Homo sapiens: one gene and its partners. Changing the gene in region 5 together with the main gene of any one other region gives a genetic interaction. Each region holds a gene or a part of one and is shown on either strand. Other genes may lie near its edges.

Region 1 (3,500 bases), on a different chromosome or scaffold from region 5:
CTTGGCAGTTGATGAGGCATTTGGTCTTCACCCAGTGAATTACTGGTTTTGTTTACAGGCCATGTGACACAATCTCCTTCCAGGTCTGCCAAAAGCTACCATGAAAAGAGCAGACTCTTTTGGTAGTGGGTGTTTGAGCCCATGACACTTAGGGGCTACCTCAAGAAGGAAGCTTGAATCCAACTTCTAAAGGGTAAAATCCAAACACTAAGTTGTTAGGAAAATAGAGTAAAAGAAAACCCAACAGTGCTGTGTGCTGTCATTGTCGCTGCCTTCCCAGCCATGGAGCCATTACACTGGAGATAAAAGTTGTACCATATCCAAAAACAACAGTGAAAGCATCCACACCATTCAGTCACAAAGACTACACTGTTTATCTTTGCATTTCAAGCTTGTTAAGAAAAGCAGGCTGGGCACAGTGGCTCACGCCTGTAACCCCAGCACTTTGGGAGGCCAAGGCAGGTGGATCACCTGAGGTCACCTGCCTGACCAACATGGTGAAATCCCGTCTCTACTGAAAATACAATAATTAGCCAAGTGTGGTGGCAGGTGCCTGTAATCCCAGGTACTTGGAAGCCTAAGACAGGAGAATCACTTGAACCCCGGAGGCGGAGGTTGCAGTGAGCCGATTGGGCCACTGCACTCTAGCCTGGATGACAGAGCAAGACTCTGTCTCAAAAAAAAAAAAAAAAAAAAGCTTGTTAAGAAAAGCAGTTTGTAACCAGGGAGAGTGAAAGCCATCTGGATGCGAGGATGTTGGCTACCTTGGGAGGGGACTGGGTGGTAACTGGTAGGAGGCTCAGGGGGCTTTGCTGGTTATGCTGTTTCCCGACCTGGATGCTGATTATGTGACTGTGCTCCCTTTGTGAAATCCATGGAGCTGTCCACTTATGTGCACTTTTCTGTATGTCTGTTAATTTTCTTTTTTTTTTTTTTTTTTTTTTTTTTTTTGAGACAAGGTCTGGCTCTGTCACCCAGGCTGGAGTGCAGTGACACAATCTTGGCTTACTGCAACCTCTGCCTCCCAGGTACAAGCCTTCCACCTCAGCTTCCTGAGCAGCTCGGACTACAGGGACACAACACCACACCCAGCTAATTTTTGTATTTTTTGTAGAGACAGGTATAACCTGTTGGCCAGGATGGTCTCGAACTCCTGAGCTCAAGCAATCTGCCTGCCTCTGCCTCACAAAGTGTTGGGATTATAGGTATGAGCCATAATCCCACCTGGGCTCTGTTAATTTTCAGTGAAATGTACTGTCAAAGACTGCTTTGTCTTTGCCTAGAGAAAAGAATTAGGAGAGGCTTTTCCCTGTATAATGTTTGAGATCTTTCTAATTTTGACACAAGTAAATGCATTATTACATAATGAAACTCAATGTCTAGGTGAGAGGTTGGCAAACTACAGCCTGCAGGCCAAATCTGGCTCAATGCCTGGTTTTCTTTTTAATTGGGATATAATTGACATACCAATTCAGTGGTTTTTAATATGTTTAATATATTCACAAGGTTGTACAACCAACCTCACTACGTAATTCCAGAACATTTCATCATCCCCTAAAGAAACCCTGTAACCCTTGGCAGTCATTCCTTATTCCCCCACTCCTAGAACTTGGCAACCATTAATCTAGTTTCTGTCTCTATGGATTTGTCTATTCGCTACAGAATACATTTAACAGAAATGGAATCATAGGCATATGAAACATTAGCATGTTTCCAAGGTTAATCTATGTTGTAGCCTGTGTCAGTATGTTATATCTATTTTTATGGCTGAATAATATTCCACTGTGTGGATATTTGTTTATATTCATTCAATTGATGGCCATTTGGATTGCTTCCACCTTGTGGCTATTATAAAAAGTGCTGCTATTGGCCAGGCATGGTGGCTCTTGCCTGTAATCCCAGTACTTTGGGAAGCCGAGGCAAGCGGATCACTTGAGGTCAGGAGTTCAAGACCAGCCTGGCCAACAAGGTGGAATCCCGTCTCTAGTAAATATACAAAAAATAAAAATAAAAAAATTAGGCGGGTGTGATGGTGCACACCTATAATCCCAGCTACTCAGGAGGCTGAGGCAGGAGAATCGCTTGAACTGGGGAGGCGGAGGTTACAGTGAGCCAAGATGGCACCACTGCACTCTAGCCTGGGTGACAGAGCTAGACTCCATCTCAAAAAAAAAAAAAAAAAAAAAAACACTGCTATGAACACTTGTGTACATGTTTTTATGTGAACATGTTTTCAATTCTCTTTGGTATATTCCTAGGAGTAAAATTGCCGATCATATGGTAATCTTGTGTGTGGTTTTGAAGAATGGTCAAACTGTCTTCCACACTGGGTGCAGCATTTTGTGGTTTGGATTTGCATTTCCCTAAGACCTAATGATGCTGAGCATATTTATATGTGCTTTTCGGCCACTTGTATGTTTTCTCTGGAGAAGTGTCTATTCAAATCCTTTGCCCATTTTAAATTAGGGTTATTTGTCTTTTTAGCCCTGAGCTAAAAAACGTTCTTTTTATGTTCTGAACACTAGATTTTTATTAGATAACTAACTTGCAAATATTTTCTCCCATTCTGTGGGCTGTCCTTTTATTATTATTTATTATTATTATTATTTTTGAGACGGAGTCTCGCTCTGTTGCCCAGGCTGGAGTGCAGTGGCGCGATCTCGACTCACTGCAACCTCCGCCTCCTGGGTTCAAGCGATTCTCCTGCCTCAGCCTCCTGAGTAGCTGGGACTACAGATGCCTGCCACCATGCCTGACTAATTTTTGTATTTTTAGTAGAGATGGGGTTTCACCATATTGGCCAGCCTGGTCTCAAATGCCTGACCTCAGATGATCCACCCGTCTCGGCCTCTCAGAGTGCTAAGATTATAGGCATAAGCCACCGCACCTGGCCTTTTTATTTATTTATTTATTTTTTGAGACTAGGTCTTGCTCTGTCACCCAGGCTAGAGTGCAATGGTGAGATTATAGCTCACTGCAATCTCCAGCTCCTGGGCTCATGTGATCCACCCACCTTAGCCTCCCCAAGTAGCTGGGTTTATTCTAACAAGTGTGTGCCACCATACCCAGCTATTTTTTTTTTTCTAGATATCGGGTCTCACTATGTTGCACAGGCTGGTCTCAAACTCCTGGGCTCAAGTGATCCTCCCACCTCAGCCTTCCAAAGTGCAGGGATTACAGGCATGAGCCACTGTGCTCAGCCCCATCCATTCCTGCCAGTGCAGCTGGAGGAATCTATTCAAACCAGAAATCTGAGCACATCACTCATTTGTTTTAGCTCTCTGTGGATAAAAGCCAAATCCCTAATACATTCTGGAAGGTTTCTAGTTAAACTGCACATCTACTATCTGCCTGGCTCTGCCCACATTCTGCTTCCCCTCCTGCTACCATAGATGAGCTCCCGGCCCTTTGCTGAGGCCGATGCCTCCATCCCTGCTCTGTTCCACCCCCCTCCTTCCTGAGGACCTAGTTCCTTTCTCATTTTTCTCTCTCTCTTGCCC
Region 2 (2,527 bases), on a different chromosome or scaffold from region 5:
AAGCTTCATAAGCTTGCATGGAAAATGGACATACAGACAAATAAATTACAACACAGTATATTTACAAGATATGGAAGAATGAGTACGTAACTCTAAGGGGAAAGCAATGCAGTTGAGGAAAGCTTCCTAGAGGAGTAATAATGTGAGAGTTGGGTTTTTAAAGATGCATAGTTCCACCAAACAAAGTGTGAGATGGATGGGACAGCCTTTGAATAGCAGGTGCAAAAGCAAAGAAGTATGAAACATAGCAGTGGCTCTGAAAACTGCAAGCCGTGGAAGTTGAGAGGTGAGGAGCATTTTCAGTGTTTTAAGCTATTAATAATTTCATCTTATCCTTCTGCCTTACCCACTCCCATACTCCTAACTTCTCCAAGTAAGTGTTTGGCTGTAATTAGGAGCTTATTACTCCATTAAGACAAATATCTTGGGGTTTTTCTCATTATTTTCCTGAAAGTCTTTTTCTATTTTTCTGCTCCCCACAAGTTCTATTTTTTTAATTATTATAACACTATTCAGGTTCTAGATTCCCCTTGGTGTCTTTGGTATAAGAAATTCACATGTAATTTTTACCTGTGGAGTATAGTGAAAAAGGAGGAAGACATATCCTTAAATTATATACACATACACACACATAGTTTTTGTTACAGTATGATAGCTTTGTTTAGGAATAGAAACACAGTTGTTCAGCTGAATTATTTTAGTAATTAATATTTTTAATCCTATAAACATTGGTCTCTAGTCCCTTACCAGTGATGTAAGTGGAGAAGCTTGCTTTTCAGTGTGTGACTCAAGACTTCTCAAGGTTGACTTTTTAAAATCAGGGTTGGGGTTCTGCTTTTTTCCACCCACCTTCCTTCTATACATGGAGTCAGGAAAACACCCTTGATGACAGCACAAACTAAAAAAAGCAGTAGCATTAATCCACTCTGTTAGTTTCTGGCACTGCCTCTGTTTATACTCATATTGGATTGTGATTGTGTATCTGTCTCTGAGAGTCCCTTAAGGTAGGAATCATAACTAAGGTGTACATTTGTACACCTAGTTCAACACCTAGTTCATAATGGATGCTCATTAAACATTTGTTGAATTGGATTGAATTGAACTGAATTGAACTGGACTATGGCACCAACGGAGAAGGGGATTTTTGAGTTTGCTTTTAAGTGAGATTGATTTAAAATGAATTTAGAAAGAAAAATTATTCTTTTTGTTTTGTTTTTAAACATAGTCTAAATTTGGGGTACAGCTAGCAATATGTTCATTCGCCATAATTTTTTAAGCATTCTGAGCAATGACTCATTAGAGTCCCCAAATAGTTTTTTTTTAAGTCATAGTGGCCCTAGGAAACAAAATTAGGCTGGTAAATATAAATAGTAAGTGTGTTCTCATTATAGTCAGGAATGTGGGGTCTTGTTGATATACAGAGGAGGATCTTTATTTCTTCCCTTTGTAGCAGAGTTGGAAATGAACCAAAGATCCCCTGATAAAATTCCTATAGGGCTTCCCAGCACATTTATTTCATTCTTTCTAGAAGTCATCAAGACTTATTGTGTTATTGTTCAAAAAAAAATCAGTGCTACCTCATTTCCTAACACTTGTTTTCTGACCTCCAATTGTGTCTAGTCCAACTGGCCAAAAAGCCAGGCCAAAGATGTCTGTATTTCCATAGAGGAACAAATGAACTTAGCTTCTACTCCTTTCCCTCTACTTTGCAATTTTTTCTTTTGCAAAGGAGTTTGGAATTTAAATTCTCCAAGCCCAGAATCTTTCAATGCAAGATGGTAATAAAACTGCAAAACAATGGTAATAACTGGTCATTCCTCCAGTCCTCTGTCTTTTAAATATCTGTCTGCTCTGAGAGAGAGTCCTGAGCATCCAAATAACTTGTTGTTGTTGCTGTTGTTGTTGTTGAGACAGGGTTTCACTCCTGTCGCCCAGGTTGGAGTGCAATGGCACAATCTTGGCTCACTGCAACCTCTGCCTCCAGGCTCAAGCAATTCTTCTGCCTTAGCCTCCCAAGTAGCTGGGACTACAGGCACCTGTCTAATTTTTGTATTTTTTATAGAGATGGGGTTTCACTATGTTCCCCTGCCTGGTTTCGAACTCCTGGGCTCAAGCGATCCACCCGCCTCAGCCTCCCAAAGTGCTGGGATTACAGCGTAAGCCACTGCACCCGTCCATCCAAATAACTTTTATATTATAAAGAAGGCTGTCTTGCCAATGGGTAGCTATTTTATTCATTTACTCAGCATAACTTTATTGGATACCTCTGTGTTAAGCCCTGGAGATCTAAGGTGAGTAAGACTTCCCCCTACCTCCCAAGAAGCTCACAGTCTGTCTTGGCAACAATTATACAGTGCTAAGATAGGAGTGGGATAAAGTAATAACAGTAATTAGTTCAGCATGGAGGGGTCTGGAAGGGCTTTACAGAAAAAGTGACTTTTATGATTATGTATTTATGTATGTATGTATGAATGAGACCATGCCTGGCCAGAAAAGTGACTTTTAATCCTTAGTCTTGAAGAATAAG
Region 3 (3,500 bases), on a different chromosome or scaffold from region 5:
GTTTCTGCATCTCCCCTATCAGTCTAAAGGCCCAGTGTTGCTCAAGATAGAGACTATCAACTACCCGTGTCCTTTGTCTTCTTTTCCCTCAATCCTATGGAAATCCTGTCTCTAGTTCTTTAAATCCACAAATGAAAAATTATGCCTAAAAAGATTTTTGCATGTGGATAGTATTTTTTGTTTTTTTCTATGAAACTCTGATGATCCCAGGCCTTTTACTTGTTATTTCCGCAGGTGGTGATTCTAGATGTCCGGGTTCCCTGCACACCTGTCGCCAGGTTAAACAACCATCGAGCATGTGTCAATGGCATTGCTTGGGCCCCACATTCATCCTGCCACATCTGCACTGCAGGTAATCATGGTGGGGAGAAAGAAATCTGGGAAGGATGGAGGAAATCTGTTCTCTTGGCTCCTTAGAATTGTAGTTGTTACTGTTTTCTAAGCACAGTCTTGAGAGATTTATACAAAATGACTAGTTGGAGCCTCTCCACACTTGTGAAATTCAATCAGTACAAATTTTTAGACGATCTTGTACCCTCATGGACATCAGAACATCTTCCATATATGATTTACATCATGTGTCAGTTATAGGGCTGTGCCTTGTACTGTGCCCCTGAAATCTGGATGGCACAGAGGACTCAATTCCAGGAATATGGGGAAAGGGAGGCATCCCTCATGGATATAACAGAATCTTTGGGACTGTGAAGATCAACATCTCCATGGGACCTTTCAGGTTTCACTATAACAAACCCACAGTGTGCTCTGGATGCATCGGAGGGCCCCACAGAACTTTGCCTGGTTGTGGTTTGTGACTTGTGGTTTTCATTTCACTGTTTCCCAGACCAAAGCTAGCACCCCTTACGGGCTGGGTGCAGTGGTTCACGCCTGTAATCCCAGCACTTTGGGAGGCTGAGGCGGGTGGATCACCTGAGGTCAGGAGTTCGTGACCAGCCTGACAAACATGGTGAAACCCTGTCTCTACTAAAAATACAAAAAAAATTAGCCAGGCATGGTGGCACGCACCTGTAGTCCAAGCTACTTAGGAGGCTGAGGCAGGAGAAGCACTTCAACCCAGGAGGTGGAGGTTGCATTGACCAGAGATTATGCCACTGCCCTCCAGCCAGGGCAACAGAGCAAGACTCTGTCTCCAAAAAAAAAAAAAAAAAAAAAAAAGTACCCCTTAAAAATATGTTGGGCCAGGCACAGTGTTTCAGGCCTGTAATTGCAGCACTTTGGGAGGCTAAAGTGGGAGGATTGCTTGAGGCCAAGAGTTCAAGACCAGCCTGGGCAGTATAGTGAGACCTCATCTCTACAGAAAGTTAAAAAAAGACTATCTGGGTGTGGTGGTGAATTCCTGTAGTCCCAGCTACTTAGAGGCTGAGGTGAGAGGATCCCTTGAGCCCAGGAGTTTGAGGTTACAGTGAGCTGTGATTGTGCCACTGTACTCCAGCCTGGGCAACCAAGCAAGACCCTGCCTCTAAAATAAATTTTAAAAAAAGAAAAGAAAGGCTGGGTGCAGTGGCTCACATCTGTAATACCAGCACTTTGGGAGGCCGAGGCAGGTGGATCACGAGGTCAGGAGATCAAGACCATCCTGGCCAACATGGTGAAACCCTGTCTCTACTAAATACAAAAATTAGCTGGGCGTGGTGGCACATGCCTGTAGTCCCAGCTACTCGGGAGGCTGAGGCAGGAGAATCGCTTGAACCTGGGAGGTGGAGGTTGCAGTGAGCTGAGATCGTGCCACTACCCTCCAGCCTGGTGACAGAGTGAGACCCCGTCTCAAAAAAAAAAAAAGAAAAATATGCTGGTTGTCAATGCACTTTTATTGTAGAAATAATGCCAATCTGTTATTTAAATTGAAAACAGTACAGAAGCATATTTAAGAGCAAGGCGAAAGTCATCTTTTCTCCTTCCTATATCATTTCTGCCTCCATCCCCCTCTGCATAGATGACCTCTATCAACAGGTAATGTGTCTCCTTCCAGACCCTTTTGGTATACTTTCAGGGATGTACATCTATGCCCCCAAATACAACTATATACTTCTTCCTTTTGCACTGATAGGATTCTGTCCTAGTCCTGTGATGTTTTGCTCCTTAACTTTTTTAGTGTGTTTTTTTTCTTCTCCTCACTAATCAGGAGCCTTATAATGGACAAGGTTTGTTATGGAGCCCAAGAAGCAATGTACTCTGGTGTTTTTCTGCCATTTGAGCATTATTTGGAAGGCATGAAGCTTTTCCTGATTTTGGCCCTCTGCTCATGCCTGTATGTCTCCTTGAAGAGCAGCTGGGGGCCTGCTGCTGCCTTCTGTACCTCAGATTGTGGTCTGTCTTCTTCATTATTGCCCTCTTTTTTTTTTTTTCCCAGGGGTGTGGATAGGGAGGGATAGAAGAAGCAGAAAAGAAAGGTGTCATCCATTATTCATGGAAAGCAGGACTGGCCCCGTAGAAGCCCCATTTTCTGCTCCTGGCTGCTGCCTTTGTCTGGCTCGCTGTTGTTTTGTGTGTTGCACCTGCCTTGAGCCCCTTCAACCGAAGGAGCTGTTGCTCAAGTGTGCTCGGTTGAGCATTGAGGAAAAGGGCCTTAGTGCTCTAGAGGTGCAATTCCCTGACCTCTTGGCATTGATTGTCCCTGGGAGAGGGATCTTGCACCTGGCCCAGACTATGCGGCCTTGGCAGGAGACTAGTATTGCCCACAATTAGTCTATTAGGGTTTAGTTTATTCAGATTTTCTTTGTATCTGAGACCAGCTTTCATCAGAATGCATGGCAGAGTCAGGGTACACTGCAGCTCTGAAGGCCATTGCCTTATTTTTTTCTTTTTTAAAAATTAACTTACTATTTTGATTATAAAAGTAATATAGGCCAGGTGCGGTGGTTCATGCCTGTAATCCCAGCATTTTGGGAGGCCGAGGCAGGAGAATCGCTTGAACCTGGGAGGCTTTGGTTGCAGTGAGCCGAGATTGCACCATTGCACTCAAGCCTGGGCAACAGAATGAGACTCCATTTAAAAAAAAAAAAAAAAAAAAGTAATATGAGCACATTACGAATCACTTAGGAACTAGAGAAAAGTAAACATAAATCCTAACCTTGCCATCTTAGTATTGCCATCATTCTCATTTTAATATATTTCCTTCTACTTATTTTTCATGTGCTTTTATATATTTAAAGTGATTACCATCTTTCTGGTGTTTCCCATAGCTATTTTCTTGGATTTTTTTTTTTTTTTTGAGATGAAGTCTCACTCTGTCACCCATGCTGGAGTGCGGTGGTATGATCTCGGCTCACTGCAACCTCTGCCTCCCGAGTTAAAGCGATTCTCCTGCCTCAGCCACCGAAGTAGCTGGGATTACAGGTGTGTGCCACCACACCTGGCTAATTTGTATTTTTTTTTTTTTTTTAGTAGAGATGGGGTTTCACCATGTTGTCCAGGCTGGTCTTGAACTCCTGACCTCAGGTGATCCGCCTGCCTCAGCCTTCCAAAGTGTTGGGATTACAGGT
Region 4 (3,255 bases), on a different chromosome or scaffold from region 5:
GCTTTTGTTTTGTTTTGTTTTGTTTTAATTTTGCCCCAAAAGCCTGTTGACTTAACTGTCACCAGGCTGTCACACATTCATTCATCGCCTGTGTGTGTTTATTTGTAGGTGAATGTACATATTTGGGATCCAGAAGTCAATGTGTTTGCTCAGAACCATGAGCCTGAAGTTGGGAGACCATTCTCCTCTTTACAGCTCAGATGGTGGTAGAGCCGGTAGACATCTAGTATAGCCCAGTGGGGCCTCCTGACCTCTAGTGGGGAGGGCAGGGAGGTGAGGTGAGGGGAAGCAGTCAGCTAGGTCTTCAGTGAGGCCAGAGGGAAAGATCTGTAATTTAAGAAGGACACAGCGGGTGACGGCCTCTGAACTAACTCAGTACTTCTCATTTCTCCCTTACAGTTGGAGGTCCCCCTCCCCACTAAGTGCCTCTTTGCATAGCACCAGTCCCCACCCGCACGCTCTCTGGACCACTACAGCTGGACGGGCAATGGCGGGTCGGGGAGGCGCAGCACGACCCAATGGACCAGCTGCTGGGAACAAGATCTGTCAATTTAAGCTGGTTCTGCTGGGGGAGTCTGCGGTAGGCAAATCCAGCCTCGTCCTCCGCTTTGTCAAGGGACAGTTTCACGAGTACCAGGAGAGCACAATTGGAGGTGAGTGGGCATGAGGGAGTCGGGGAGGGGCCTGAAGGTTGCCAAAGAAATGCTTTGACCTTGAGGAGATGGGAAGCTGCCTGCCTGCATTAGGGACTAAATGCGTCTGTGGTGGCAGCCCCACTTCCTCACCTGGGCCCTGGAATTGAGCCCAGCAACTGGTCTCCATGCCAGAGTCCCCTCAAGCATCGCTAGTAAGCATTTGCTGGGAGTGGAAAGCTAGCTTCCCATCCTGTTTCTGCCCCTTCTTGATCTGTGTGGCCTTGGCTGAGGCCCTTTCACTGCCCTGGCCTCATGGAGGGAGAGCTGACTCTGGATCTTTGAGGCCCCTTCTTACTATAATGGGTGGTCCATGTGCCCTGGCCTTTCCCACTTCCAGAAGAAGGAACAGCCTGGTGAGTCGGAGCTGGGTGATAGGTGGGTGTTTCTGAAGCTGACTTTACCCTTTCTGGAGCTCACAGCCTGTTGTTGATTTTCCAGTGGTCAGCATTTAGGATGTGAGTGAGGGTCTGGCCTCGGCCTCTTGCCTCCGTGGCTAACACACACATCAAGAGGCAGGGGCCAACGCTGGCCTTGGCCTTGAGTCATCCTTTCTCTACTCTCTTGGTAGGAGGTTTCTAGGCAGCTGGAAACAAAATGGGCCATGTCAGCAGTCTCCCTGCTGCCTCCTCAGCATTTGGGTCAGGAGCTGGAGAGGGGAAGTGAGGCAGTGCCCCATGTCCCTCAGTGAGCTGGGGGAGGGCAGACCAGGAAAGCAGCCTTCTACACATGGCTGTCCTGGGTTCTCTGCTGGGTCCAGGGGCAAAGGGGCCTTTTGCTGTCTGTCCCAGCTCTGGACTCCTCCTTTGAAGCATGTGTACAGGCACCCTGCATTCCCCTAAGGAGTCACCTCTTAGTGACTGAAGGTCAGGTCACAGGGTGGCCATACAGGAACAGGTCTGGGTCAGAGCTAGGGGCGGTGGCTAGCTGGAGTGCCTGGAGGTGGTAGGGGTGGTTGGGAAGCCGGCCACCCAGCCTCAGCCTGGTGGTGGAACAGTGTGTACTTCCCCAGCATAGCTAAGTGTGTGAGAATGTCCTTAGGAAACCCAAGGTCAGTGACACCCCTGGGCTGGAGCAAACTGAGGGGTGGAGCGGTCCCTAGCTGCTGGTCTGTTCTCTGAGTGGCGGAGGAGGAGGTCTGAGGGCGCTCACCCTTCTGTGCTTGGAGTAGGCTTCCCCTAGGCTTTCCCTCTCTTGCCCCTGCTGTGTTGCTCTTCAGAGAGTGGTCCTGAGATGGCTCAGTGCATGCAGGAGTCCCTTCTCCTGCCGTTGCCTGGGCTGGGTCTGCAAAGCCTGTGCAGACCCCGTCCCCCAGACACATACATAAAAATCCAAACTCCACCCCCCACTCAGGCCTGCTTTGGCTCCTGGCTTGAGGGTTCTCTGTGCCCATCTCAGTGGTGGGCTTCTGAGTGCCAGAGCCTAGAAGCAACAGTGGGATTGTGTGGGGTGGATTCCAACTCGCTCTTGCCCATGGACGCTCCTTCTCTCTTACAGCGGCCTTCCTCACACAGACTGTCTGCCTGGATGACACAACAGTCAAGTTTGAGATCTGGGACACAGCTGGACAGGAGCGGTATCACAGCCTGGCCCCCATGTACTATCGGGGGGCCCAGGCTGCCATCGTGGTCTATGACATCACCAACACAGTAAAGATTTCCCCTTGCTTCTTCCTTTGCCCTTCATCTTCTCAAAGTCCCAGGGATTGGGTTATCAGAGCCCTGATTTCAGGCCGCTTAACCCTCTGTTCCTGGGTGGGGGGTGGGCAGATTTCCTGTTTGGGGACATTGCATCAGAATCTTTAGGTGGCAATGTCTTAGATAATTTGGCTGTGCCAGCTTGAGAGTCTCTAATGGGTGGCCCTGGGCAGAATGCCTTCTCTGTCCCTTCGACATTCTGTCCCTGTCTCCTCAGGATACATTTGCACGGGCCAAGAACTGGGTGAAGGAGCTACAGAGGCAGGCCAGCCCCAACATCGTCATTGCACTCGCGGGTAACAAGGCAGACCTGGCCAGCAAGAGAGCCGTGGAATTCCAGGTGGGGAGATGACAGACTTGGGGGAAGGAGTGGAGTAAGCAGCTCCCCCCGGCCTCGCCTGGGATGCTCAGGGGCTTTGGGAAGGGCCATGCTAGGAGGCAACAGGGAAGCTTCCATCTGCTGTCCTCTCGTGCCTCAGGCATGGGCCTAACATGGCTCCTGTCTGTAATCCCAGTGCCTTGGGAGGCTGGAGTGGGAGGATCACTTGAGGCCAGGAGTTCGAGACCAGCCTAGGCGACACAGTAAGACTCTGTCTCTGCAAAAGATTTAAAAATTAGCTGGGCTTGGTGGCACGCACCTGTAGTCTCAGCTGCTCAGGAGGCTGAGGCACGAGGATTGTTTGAGCCCAGGAGTTTAAGATTGCAGTGATTGCAACACTGCACTCCAGCCTGAGCAAGAGTGAGGCCCCATCTCTTTAAAAAAAAAAAAAAAACAGCCAGGTGTGGTGGCACACACCTGTAATCCCAATACTCTGCAGGCTGAGGCGGGAGATCACTTGAGCTTAGGAGTTCGAGACCAGCATGGG
Region 5 (3,500 bases):
TAACTTTTATTGGAGGCACATCACCTCTTAAAACTTTTAAGTTTCAAACTTGTAACTTTTGATTTTTGAGTTGTCACTTGGGTATTTTATAAATGTGAAAGAAAATTATTTCTTGATATTATGGTTTTTGTCTAGAACTGGTTGAAATAAGCCCGAAATTCTAGCACCTAAAACTTTTTTAAAAAAAGTGATTTAGGCTTGCAAATTTCGTGATGTAAATATATCCACCAAGAGCGTTCTAATGTCAGCTTTAAAGGAAAGAAAACTGGAATCCAATGGGATGACATGCTAAAGTGTTACAAATCAAATTATTACTTAAATCTCAACCTCTGAATTGCTGTTTAATACTCAGATATTCTCCTAAAAAATTTCCAGGTTGATTCAAATAACTTAGGTTAAACTCAACTTTTACGTGTTGGGATGGGGAAGAGAAGACTTATTTGTAGCCTTCACACCTTTATGTTCCTGTTTCAGTATTTGCATTTGATCCATTGAAATTTTTATTTCATTTGGTATGGTTAGGGTAAAACAAATCATTTGAGAAATGACATTTTGTTCTCCCTCTCCCTCCAAAAAAAAAAGATTATGAAAGCCACTTGTAAACTTTTTTTGTAAAAATGACCAAAAGACTGGAAAAGTTAATGTTAGGCAAATCCTGGAAATATCTTTTGGAGCTGTTTCTGATCATCTTGAGTGATGGAAATGATGAGGGTCATCTGTTGTCTTCATTACTCAGTGAACACGTTTTGTCACTGCTTGGTAAACGCTTAATGCCGTATGCACTTAAAAAGCACCTGGAAAGATAGGATTTTAGGATCTGGCATATAATTAAGTAGGGTAAAGATCCTTCTGGTCTTGGTACAGTTTTGTGGCCCTGGGTTTTGTGCTTTTTTGTTTTTTGAGTTTTTCCCCCATTTCAAAGACACAGGGCAGATAGTGTGTAAAGTATACCTGCTTTTTGACCAGTAGATTAATGTACACAGTGGAGAAGTGGTAAGGCTTTTTAAAATGTCAGCTCTACTTTTTTTTTTTTTTTTTTTTTTTGAGACAGAGGTTTGCTCTCGTTGCCCAGGCTGGAGTGCAGTAGCTCGATCTTGGCTCACTGCAATCTCAACCTCCCAGGTTCAAGCGATTCTCTGCTTCACCCTCCTCAGTAGCTGGGATTGCAGGTGTCCACAACCATGCCCAGCTAAGTTTTGTATTTTTTAGTGGAGACAGTATTTCACCATTTTGGCCAGGCTGGTCTCGAACTCCTGACCTCAGGTGATCCACCCGCCTCAGCCTCCCAAAGTGCTGGGAATACAGGCGTGAGCCACCATGCCCGGCTGTCAGCTCTATTTTCTTAAAATGCCATTGTGTTAGTGGTTCGTCATCCTAACCAAAACATTTTGATCAAGACCATTTATTTTCCAGCTCTGTAACTTGTGATATGCTATGTTTTATTTTATTTTGGCTTGAATGTTTACATAAGAGTTTGCTTCTGGAGTCTTGCAGATATAGCTCCTGATTTAGTGAGGCATTTCTCTCCTCAGTATTAAATTGCAAAACATTTTACTAAAGTGCTTTAAGTTTTTCTGGCAATTATTCTCAAGGCCTTGTAAGTTCATTTATAGGACTTCAAGAAGGTTGTCTCTGGTTGATAGTGAGATAAAGTGACTTTTAAGTTGTAAATCTTGAATGCGTTACAATATGGGGGTCTTATTCCAGCAGGAGTTCATCTTCTATAGCAGAGGTTGGAATTGTATTGGCATGTCCAGTGAATGGATAATAGGGAGGAGGGAGGAAAGGGTTTCTGCCTTGGTGGCCTTTTGGCATTATTTTGTGTTTTTCTTTGCTTTTCTCTCTCTTCTTTATTTAATAAAAACAAAAAAATGGAAACAGTTGAAAATTAATGCAAAGTGGTATTTGTAGGGACATTAAGTGGTAAATAGGAAAGAGAAAAAGAGTAGGAAGAGTGTTGCAGATACAAGTGGGAGTGTAAAATACTTTTTCCTGGTATATTTACAAAAACAATTTGAGAGTTATTCTGCCAATTCATATACCCAGCAATTAATGGAAAAGTAAAAGATGCTAGTTTTATGTTTGTCCAGATTTTAGGGTTTCCTTCTTTGAAGATTTCTAAAGTTGAATATTTTTTTAAGTGAGGCAAGCAGTAAAATTAATGGGCAAATGAAACCAATTATACCAAGTCTAAAATTTTTCTTTTTTTTTTGAGGCAGAGTCTCGCTTTGTAGCTGGGACTACAGGCGCCTGCCACCATGCCCAGCTAATTTTTTGTATTTTTAGTAGAGACGGGGTTTCACCATGTTGGCCATGATGGTCTCGATCTCCTGACCTTGTGAACCTCCCATCTCTGCCTCCCAAAGTGCTGGGATTACAGGCGTGAGCCACCGCGCCCAGCTAAAAATTTTTTTTTTTTTTAATACTTTTAAGTTTTAGGATACATGTGCACAACGTGCAGGTTTGTCACATATGTATACATGTGCCATGTTGGTGTGCTGCACCCATTAACTCGTCATTTAGCATTAGGTATATCTCCTAATGCTATCCCTCTCCCCTCCCTGCTAAAAAATTTTTTAACATTGAACTTCGCAGGTGATTTTTTTTCGCTTAATAGACGGTAGTTTCATTTTGAAATTTTCATGGGAAATTACTGCTCACTTTCCCAGAAGCGCTTAAGAGGATAAATAATAATTGAGGTGTTAAGCCTCTTCTGAGCAATTTGGATATAATTTGTTTTTAGATCTAGATTCTTTTTTATAAATGTCCCAAAGCAATTAGAAGTGATTGTTTTTTTTGAGACGGAGTCTCGCTCTGTCGCCCAGGCTGGAGTGCAGTGGCGCGATCTCGGGTCACTGCAAGCTCCGCCTCCCGGGTTCAAGCCATTCTCCTGCCTCAGCCTCCCGAGTAGCTGGGACTACAGGCGCCCGCCACCACACCCGGCTAATTTTTTGTATTTTTAGTAGAGACGGGGTTTCACCGTGTTAGCAAGGATGGTCTCCATACACTGACCTCGTGATCCGCCCACCTCAGCCTCCCAAAGTGCTGGGATTACAGGCGTGAGCCATAGCACCTGGCCCTAGAAGTAATTTTGTTGAGAGAGAGAGAGTAAAACTAAAAGTACTGAAAAGAGTAAGAGAGTAGCTAAGAGAATGAGTATTGGAGTCAGACTGCTAGAGTTCATAGCCCAGGCTTGTATTTATTAACTGTGAACTTTGGGCCAAATACTTAACCTGGCTCAACCTCCTCACATTTATTCCTAACCACAGCCCTGTAAGGTGGGTGCGCACCTTATAGGAATCCACCTTACTTACCCACCTTACAGGATTGTGGTTAGGAATAAATGAGAATTCTCTTTATCAGATGCTTAGGACTATGCTTGCTTCTGTGTAGTATGTGTTCATTGTTAACTGTTTTTAACTTTACTGCTAAATATATCAGAAGGAAAGCAGTGGTAGATGGTTTGGGGGTTGTTTTTGTTTTTTTGATTTGCAACGAAG
Region 6 (4,019 bases), on a different chromosome or scaffold from region 5:
AAGCCCCTTGCTCGAATAACCCTACATCACCGCCTGAGGGCTTCCATATCCTTGGTCTCTTCAGACTGTCATCCCCACCACAATTACTCCAAGAAATTACTGTCATCCCCAAATCTATAACTGGAAACTGAGGCTCAGGAAGGAGACATGACTTCCACAAAATCACACAGTTGGGAAACTCTGGAGTCTGCACTCAACTGGTCTGCAAACCGCACTCTCGGAGACTTCAGGTGAGATGAGGTCAGGTTCTCAGGCCAGGTCCTGAAGTTTGACACCTTGGCGAAATGCACTTTCCTTGACTCAGCACCGCGAGTGAGGCGGAGCCAAGCCCCGAGCAGAAGGGTTTTCTTCCCAGCTGAAGAGGCAGCTCAGCCTAGACCCCAGGCATGGCACTGGACACCCCTGCTGTGGAAACGTGCAGATTTAGATGGAGGGGATTCCTAACCTGGGCAGGATCCGAGTTTGGAGAGATTGGCGCGAAGCTTTAGCAGCAATCTCCGATTCCTGTACAACCATAGCTGGGTTTCTAAGCGTCTAGGGAAGAAGGACTGGGCCCACGACCTGCTGAGCAACTCCCAGGTCGGGGACTGGCGGAATATCAGAGCCTCTACGACCCGTTTGTCTCGGGCTCGCCCACTTCAACTCTCGGGGTCTCTCCGCCTGTTGTTGCACTCGTGCGTTTCTCTGCCCCTGACGCTCTAAGCTTTCTGCTTTCTGCGTGTCTCTCAGCCTCTTTCGGTCCCTCTTTCACGGTCTCACTCCTCAGCTCTGTGCCCCCAATGCCTTGCCTCTCTCCAAATCTCTCACGACCTGATTTCTACAGCCGCTCTACCCATGGGTCCCCCACAAATCAGGGGACAGAGGAGTATTGAAAGTCAGCTCAGAGGTGAGCGCGCGCAGCCAGCGTTTCCCGCGGATACAGCAGTCGGGTGTTGGAGAGGTTTGGAAAGGGCGTGCCGGAGAGCCAAGTGCAGCCGCCTAGGGCTGCCGGTCGCTCCCTCCCTCCCTGCCCGGTAGGGGACCTAGCGCGCACGCCAGTGTGGAGGGGCGGGCTGGCTGGCCAGTCTGCGGGCCCCTGCGGCCACCCCGGGGACCCCCCCAAGCCCCGCCCCGCAGTGTTCCTATTGGCCTCGGACTCCCCCTCCCCCAGCTGCCCGCCTGGGCTCCGGGGCGTTTAGGCTACTACGGATAAATAGCCCAGGGCGCCTGGCGAGAAGCTAGGGGTGAGGAAGCCCTGGGGCGCTGCCGCCGCTTTCCTTAACCACAAATCAGGCCGGACAGGAGAGGGAGGGGTGGGGGACAGTGGGTGGGCATTCAGACTGCCAGCACTTTGCTATCTACAGCCGGGGCTCCCGAGCGGCAGAAAGTTCCGGCCACTCTCTGCCGCTTGGGTTGGGCGAAGCCAGGACCGTGCCGCGCCACCGCCAGGATATGGAGCTACTGTCGCCACCGCTCCGCGACGTAGACCTGACGGCCCCCGACGGCTCTCTCTGCTCCTTTGCCACAACGGACGACTTCTATGACGACCCGTGTTTCGACTCCCCGGACCTGCGCTTCTTCGAAGACCTGGACCCGCGCCTGATGCACGTGGGCGCGCTCCTGAAACCCGAAGAGCACTCGCACTTCCCCGCGGCGGTGCACCCGGCCCCGGGCGCACGTGAGGACGAGCATGTGCGCGCGCCCAGCGGGCACCACCAGGCGGGCCGCTGCCTACTGTGGGCCTGCAAGGCGTGCAAGCGCAAGACCACCAACGCCGACCGCCGCAAGGCCGCCACCATGCGCGAGCGGCGCCGCCTGAGCAAAGTAAATGAGGCCTTTGAGACACTCAAGCGCTGCACGTCGAGCAATCCAAACCAGCGGTTGCCCAAGGTGGAGATCCTGCGCAACGCCATCCGCTATATCGAGGGCCTGCAGGCTCTGCTGCGCGACCAGGACGCCGCGCCCCCTGGCGCCGCAGCCGCCTTCTATGCGCCGGGCCCGCTGCCCCCGGGCCGCGGCGGCGAGCACTACAGCGGCGACTCCGACGCGTCCAGCCCGCGCTCCAACTGCTCCGACGGCATGGTAAGGCCGGGACCCCAGGAAGTGAGGAAGTTAGGGCGGCGCTCGGGATATCAGGGACGCGTTTCCGAGGGCGGGGAGCTGGCCTTGCGGGAGGTTTGGGCCAGGATCCTTCCCGAGAGAGAGGACCCCCTTGTCCTGGGCAGCTGTCACTGGGGTAGCCTGTTTTGGAAGTGTGCGGGCAAGCGTTCGAGCTGCCCCATTGGGGGCGCTATTAGAACACTGCAGCGCGAACGTGAAGATCTTTTTCTCTACTTATCCCTACTTCCAAAATGTAAATTTGCGCCCCTTGGTGACTGTCCGCCCTTGGTTTGGCCCTGCATGTTGCAGACCTCATCTCCTACCCACCCGTAATTACCCCCCCAACCAGGACAGGTCTGGGCCCGGAACTAGAGCCTTAGGCTAGAGTTAGGGAGGGGGCGGCTACAGGAATTGGTGTTCGGGCCTCGAGCCGTCCCGCGGGCCTGACTCAGTCGCCCTTGCTGTTTGCAGATGGACTACAGCGGCCCCCCGAGCGGCGCCCGGCGGCGGAACTGCTACGAAGGCGCCTACTACAACGAGGCGCCCAGCGGTGGGTATTCCGGGCCTCTCCCTGCTCGCTCCTCCTCCTTCATGGAGCTGTCCTGGCCTCTATCTAGGACGCTCCCACCCCCACTCACACACGCCTATGTCCTGGGAAGTGGTGCAGGAGATGAAATACTAAGCAAGTAGCTCCCTGTCTTTTGGATTGTCCCGGACTCTAACTAAAGTCCTCAGTTTCCAATCTGTCTCAAAGTACTGGGCCCGGGGGTGGGAGGCTTGTCGCGGCCCCACCCCTGCTTACTAACCGAGCCCTCCCCGCGCAGAACCCAGGCCCGGGAAGAGTGCGGCGGTGTCGAGCCTAGACTGCCTGTCCAGCATCGTGGAGCGCATCTCCACCGAGAGCCCTGCGGCGCCCGCCCTCCTGCTGGCGGACGTGCCTTCTGAGTCGCCTCCGCGCAGGCAAGAGGCTGCCGCCCCCAGCGAGGGAGAGAGCAGCGGCGACCCCACCCAGTCACCGGACGCCGCCCCGCAGTGCCCTGCGGGTGCGAACCCCAACCCGATATACCAGGTGCTCTGAGGGGATGGTGGCCGCCCACCCGCCCGAGGGATGGTGCCCCTAGGGTCCCTCGCGCCCAAAAGATTGAACTTAAATGCCCCCCTCCCAACAGCGCTTTAAAAGCGACCTCTCTTGAGGTAGGAGAGGCGGGAGAACTGAAGTTTCCGCCCCCGCCCCACAGGGCAAGGACACAGCGCGGTTTTTTCCACGCAGCACCCTTCTCGGAGACCCATTGCGATGGCCGCTCCGTGTTCCTCGGTGGGCCAGAGCTGAACCTTGAGGGGCTAGGTTCAGCTTTCTCGCGCCCTCCCCCATGGGGGTGAGACCCTCGCAGACCTAAGCCCTGCCCCGGGATGCACCGGTTATTTGGGGGGGCGTGAGACCCAGTGCACTCCGGTCCCAAATGTAGCAGGTGTAACCGTAACCCACCCCCAACCCGTTTCCCGGTTCAGGACCACTTTTTGTAATACTTTTGTAATCTATTCCTGTAAATAAGAGTTGCTTTGCCAGAGCAGGAGCCCCTGGGGCTGTATTTATCTCTGAGGCATGGTGTGTGGTGCTACAGGGAATTTGTACGTTTATACCGCAGGCGGGCGAGCCGCGGGCGCTCGCTCAGGTGATCAAAATAAAGGCGCTAATTTATACCGCCGTGGCTCCGGCTTTCCCTGGACATGGGTGTGGGATCCGGAGGAAAATCCGCAAACTGGGCCAGCTGTCCCTCAGCGACGCCTGTAGGCGGCAGGCGGATTGCAAGGAGGAAGCCTGCTGCCTGGGGAAGGAAGGAGGGGTGCAAATTTCTCCAGTACGTGAGGAAGTTCCTCTGACCTTGACTACATTACTACACACGTCCGTGGCTCTTATGGAAGGGTACACAGGTTGATAT
Region 7 (3,500 bases), on a different chromosome or scaffold from region 5:
TGTGGCGAGTGCATGGGTGAGTGTAGACTACCCACTGTCACCAGCCCTAAATCTCCATGTCTCTGTTTGGGTTCTTAAGGGAGGAGTCCCCATCTTGGCCAAATCATGATGCCCCCACCCCATTCCAGCCCTAAATGGGTCCCTCCCTTTCCTCTGCCTTGACCATTCAGGGTCTCCACATCCCATGGCCCTCCCTCCCCATCCCTTGCTCTTTTCAGTGCCAGCCCTCCAGGCTGCCTCCATCACCCTAACAGCCCTTCTCCAACCCCAGGTCCAATCCCAGCTTACGCTCCAGCCCCAGGACCCTGAGGCACACTCAGCTCCCGCGCCTGCTTCTCTGTCACCATGTCGGCCCTGACCAGCGGAGGCTTGGCTGGGGCCCCCAGGAACCTCAAGCCCAACAGGAATCGAACTCCAGCCTGGAACTTGGTCTGAGTCTTCAGTACCTGGGGGGGCTGCTTCTCCACCAGGAAGCAACTGGGAGTGAGGAGGACACAAGGGGAGTTGGGGGCTAGGTCCCTGCTGGTGCCCTCCCCACAGCTCTAGCCCCCTTCTTTTCTTCCCGAGGTCTGTTCTAGGCCAGACTGGGAGCTCCCGGGGAATACCTGGTGACGAGGGTTCTCAGGACTTCATCCAGCCGGCCAGTCAGCGATGCCCGGGTCTTGGGCTCAAGCTCCCCACCAGCCGCCCCTACCTCCTGCTGTAGCTGGGAATAAATGTCCACCAGGCTTTCACACCTGGGGCCAGGACAGTGGTCAGGGGGCACAGGATTAAGGCTGCTTGCTCCGGCCCAGACCCCCTTCCCCTATACCCAGGGAGAAAGGCTATCATGTGTGGAGAAGTGGGGTGGGTAGTGGGTGTGGCTGCAAGGCACCTGGGCTGAAGGGGGTTCTGTGATCTGTTGGCCTAGGGTCTGGGTGGGAGGTTCATTCTCAGTGCCTACACCCCCTGTGGAAACCCAGCTGCCTCTCCCCCGACGGCTCTTGCACCCAGGACAACTGCCACCACTTACAGTGCTTTGTGGCAAATTGGAAAGTGTTCCCACCCAATAAACCAAATGGAAAAGCCCTCCTATTCCTCTAGGCATGGGGCTTGAGGAGAGAAGCCTGGGTTGGATGAGTCCCCGCTTGTGCCCCTCCACTAGGCCCACTTGTACAGGATGCGACCTGAACGACAGTGTGCACAGCCCCGCTGGAACTGGCTTTTATGCATCTTGGTCCACTCCAAGGCCCTCCCGCCTGGCTTCTTTCTCTCACCTGTAGGGCCTTCAGCAGGGTCAGCTGCCCACCCCCAGCTTGCCCCCTCTTCCCCATCAGCCCTAGCCCAACCTCTCCTGGAGTGGGGCCAGGCTCTCCTCAAACGGTGCGCCATTCCCTGCCAGCTGCTGCTGCCGTTTCCAAATCTGGATCCTCTTCAGCACTAGGGCTTTGGCTGCCTCTAGCTCTCCAGTGGTCTCCTGCAGTAGCATGGCCAGGGCCTATGGGCAGAGAGGGGCCTGAGCCAGGGCCTCACGCTGCCTCCACACCCAGCTCCTGGGATACGGCTCTTTTTCTCACTCCTCTGGCATTCCCTTGCCCTACTTCAGCCTGTGTCTTTCTGAGGTCTAGCTTCCATCCCTCCAGCTGCACTTTGACCAAGGTCTCCACCTGTCAGCCCATTACTCACCTCACTTGGCCCAGTCCCATTAGCAGGAGTTTCTATCAAGCTGTGCAGAGACACTGAGGGTTGGGGGCAGAAATCAAGGGTGCAGACAGATTAGAGGTTCAGATAAGGTTGAGATCCAAGAGGCAACCACTCCTACACACTCCCCAGAACCACCCTGGCCCCCACCTTGGCCAGCCTCAGCCCCCTTCTGCAGGGCTTCTCGGAGAAGGTGGATCTCCCCTACTCGGTGCTGCAGCCTCCGCAAGCCTGTCTTAAACTTGAGTTCTTCCTGCTTCCAGTGGAAAGGCATTGGCAAGTGGCGGAACTACACAGGAAGGACAGATGCCAAGAAGTGAAACACTCTGCTCATCCCTCTATACCTGGCCTCCACTCTCTGCTCTGCAGATAGCGTTTTCTTGTTCCCCTCTCCCCTTTGGCAGTTCTTCCTGACCTTTTGGAATATCGTGGAGATAAGACCTTGCTCCTAGCAGAATCAGCTCCTTATCCCTTGCTCTGTTCTCCCCGGCCTCTTACCTTCAGTCCCTCATAGAAAGATTCCCTGAGCTTGACTTGGGGTTCACTCTGACCCTAGGAACCTCCTTTGGTCATTCCTGGGCCTAGAACACTGAGCCTTTACTGAGGTTCAAATTCTTTCTAGTTTGTCATGGCTCAGGCCAAAGTCTCAGGGGATTGAGTTGGGGTGGGAGGTGGAATATCACAATACCTGTTCCATAACAGCTTTTTTCTCTCCTTGAAGTATTTGTCTGAAAGTGGCCACCAGCTTCAGGGGGTCCCTCTGATATATGCTCTACAGAAATGAGGGTGGTAAACAGTGAGCTTTGCTCTTACCCATGTCCTTCAATCCCTCCAATCCCCAGGCCTGCATTCACACATATACTATAAGGAAGCACAACTGTAGACTCCAGAAGTTTTTGTGCATTTGCATGCTTTTAAAATCTAATTTGCCTGCTAGCTAGCAGTTAACCACAGGAACACCAATTTGCTTCCAGCATCCAACCAATTTTCTTCCAGGGCCCAATGCTCAACCCAGTTCAACCTCAGCCCCACCCAGCCTTGTCCCCTCCCCTCCTGCCCCACCTCAAGGGTGCTGATGTGTTGCAAGATGGTGCTCCCCTCCCCCTGCTCTCCCACCGAGGCCTGAAGGTGCTGGACAGTGTCTGAAAGTAGGGCACTAGCCAAGTTGCAGCAGAAGGCGTCGGAGCCGACCAGGAACTCCCTGCAGGAAGATCAGGATGAGGCTACCTCAGGCCAGGGCTTCCTCAGCTCTCCTGACCCTTTACCCCACAGCCAAAAGCTCAGCAGTTCCTTTCTCGCTCCTTATTCTCCATCTAGGCCCTCTGTAGCTTTCACCCATGCGCCTTGTTTCCCAGTCTTCTAGCTGTTATGAGAAGTGCCTTTGTCCCAGCCCAAACCCCCCTCCTCTTCGGCTCAGCCTCCTAAGAGATGGGGTCTCCATCTGTCAACATTCATAGCCTGGTCTTGATGGGGCACAGACTCCCTGCTAAATCTAGGTCACTACACATGGAATAACAGGTCTCAAGTTCTGAATCCATGGGTGAGGGGAGAAAAATCTAAGGAGAAGGAAGATGAGTTAGGGAAGACTTGGGGGACCAGCAGGGAGCAGCCAGGACTCACCAGGGCTGGCTCTCCAGCCAGTCACCCAGAAGATGCCGCAGGTGTTGGGGAAAGTCGACATAGAGCCGCTGCACTTTTTCTGGGGGCATCTTGGAGACCAGACCCCACAGAGACATGATCTGGGACTTGGAGGTTGCCTGGAGGAGAAAAATAAGGCCACTCTGAGGGGTGCCCAAGAAACTTGGCCTATCTCCTGGGGC

The links.
Region 1: changes in EP300 (region 5) and VPS51 together harm fitness more than expected from each alone (negative genetic interaction), as found in Homo sapiens cells (one large-scale study listed by BioGRID).
Region 2: changes in EP300 (region 5) and VPS45 together harm fitness less than expected from each alone (positive genetic interaction), as found in Homo sapiens cells (one large-scale study listed by BioGRID).
Region 3: changes in EP300 (region 5) and DCAF7 together harm fitness less than expected from each alone (positive genetic interaction), as found in Homo sapiens cells (one large-scale study listed by BioGRID).
Region 4: changes in EP300 (region 5) and RAB5C together harm fitness more than expected from each alone (negative genetic interaction), as found in Homo sapiens cells (one large-scale study listed by BioGRID).
Region 6: of EP300 (region 5) and MYOD1, changing one enhances a phenotype caused by changing the other (phenotypic enhancement), as found in Homo sapiens cells (one study listed by BioGRID).
Region 7: of EP300 (region 5) and STAT6, changing one enhances a phenotype caused by changing the other (phenotypic enhancement), as found in Homo sapiens cells (one study listed by BioGRID).

The regions. Positions count from the first base shown.
Region 1 is NC_000011.10:65,099,214-65,102,713, reverse strand, and holds part of VPS51 (vacuolar protein sorting-associated protein 51 homolog), read right to left. Parts: intron 1-3,500. UniProt on the Homo sapiens protein: Acts as a component of the GARP complex that is involved in retrograde transport from early and late endosomes to the trans-Golgi network (TGN).
Region 2 is NC_000001.11:150,140,776-150,143,302, forward strand, and holds part of VPS45 (vacuolar protein sorting-associated protein 45), read left to right. Parts: intron 1-2,062; coding exon of another isoform or gene 2,063-2,156; intron 2,157-2,527. UniProt on the Homo sapiens protein: May play a role in vesicle-mediated protein trafficking from the Golgi stack through the trans-Golgi network.
Region 3 is NC_000017.11:63,584,977-63,588,476, forward strand, and holds part of DCAF7 (DDB1- and CUL4-associated factor 7), read left to right. Parts: intron 1-234; coding exon 235-352; intron 353-3,500. UniProt on the Homo sapiens protein: Involved in craniofacial development. Acts upstream of the EDN1 pathway and is required for formation of the upper jaw equivalent, the palatoquadrate. The activity required for EDN1 pathway function differs between the first and second arches.
Region 4 is NC_000017.11:42,127,735-42,130,989, reverse strand, and holds part of RAB5C (ras-related protein Rab-5C), read left to right. Parts: intron 1-399; coding exon of another isoform or gene 400-487; coding exon 488-653; intron 654-2,189; coding exon 2,190-2,341; intron 2,342-2,606; coding exon 2,607-2,729; intron 2,730-3,255. UniProt on the Homo sapiens protein: The small GTPases Rab are key regulators of intracellular membrane trafficking, from the formation of transport vesicles to their fusion with membranes.
Region 5 is NC_000022.11:41,095,592-41,099,091, forward strand, and holds part of EP300 (histone acetyltransferase p300), read left to right. Parts: intron 1-3,500. UniProt on the Homo sapiens protein: Functions as a histone acetyltransferase and regulates transcription via chromatin remodeling. Acetylates all four core histones in nucleosomes. Histone acetylation gives an epigenetic tag for transcriptional activation.
Region 6 is NC_000011.10:17,718,352-17,722,370, forward strand, and holds MYOD1 (myoblast determination protein 1), read left to right. Parts: upstream 1-1,219; 5' UTR 1,220-1,431; coding exon 1,432-2,061; intron 2,062-2,550; coding exon 2,551-2,629; intron 2,630-2,903; coding exon 2,904-3,157; 3' UTR 3,158-3,785; downstream 3,786-4,019. UniProt on the Homo sapiens protein: Acts as a transcriptional activator that promotes transcription of muscle-specific target genes and plays a role in muscle differentiation. Together with MYF5 and MYOG, co-occupies muscle-specific gene promoter core region during myogenesis.
Region 7 is NC_000012.12:57,104,863-57,108,362, forward strand, and holds part of STAT6 (signal transducer and activator of transcription 6), read right to left. Parts: intron 3,438-3,500; 5' UTR 3,417-3,437; coding exon 3,301-3,416; intron 2,882-3,300; coding exon 2,743-2,881; intron 2,453-2,742; coding exon 2,369-2,452; intron 1,970-2,368; coding exon 1,831-1,969; intron 1,719-1,830; coding exon 1,666-1,718; intron 1,478-1,665; coding exon 1,329-1,477; intron 738-1,328; coding exon 606-737; intron 478-605; coding exon 289-477; intron 1-288. UniProt on the Homo sapiens protein: Carries out a dual function: signal transduction and activation of transcription. Involved in IL4/interleukin-4- and IL3/interleukin-3-mediated signaling.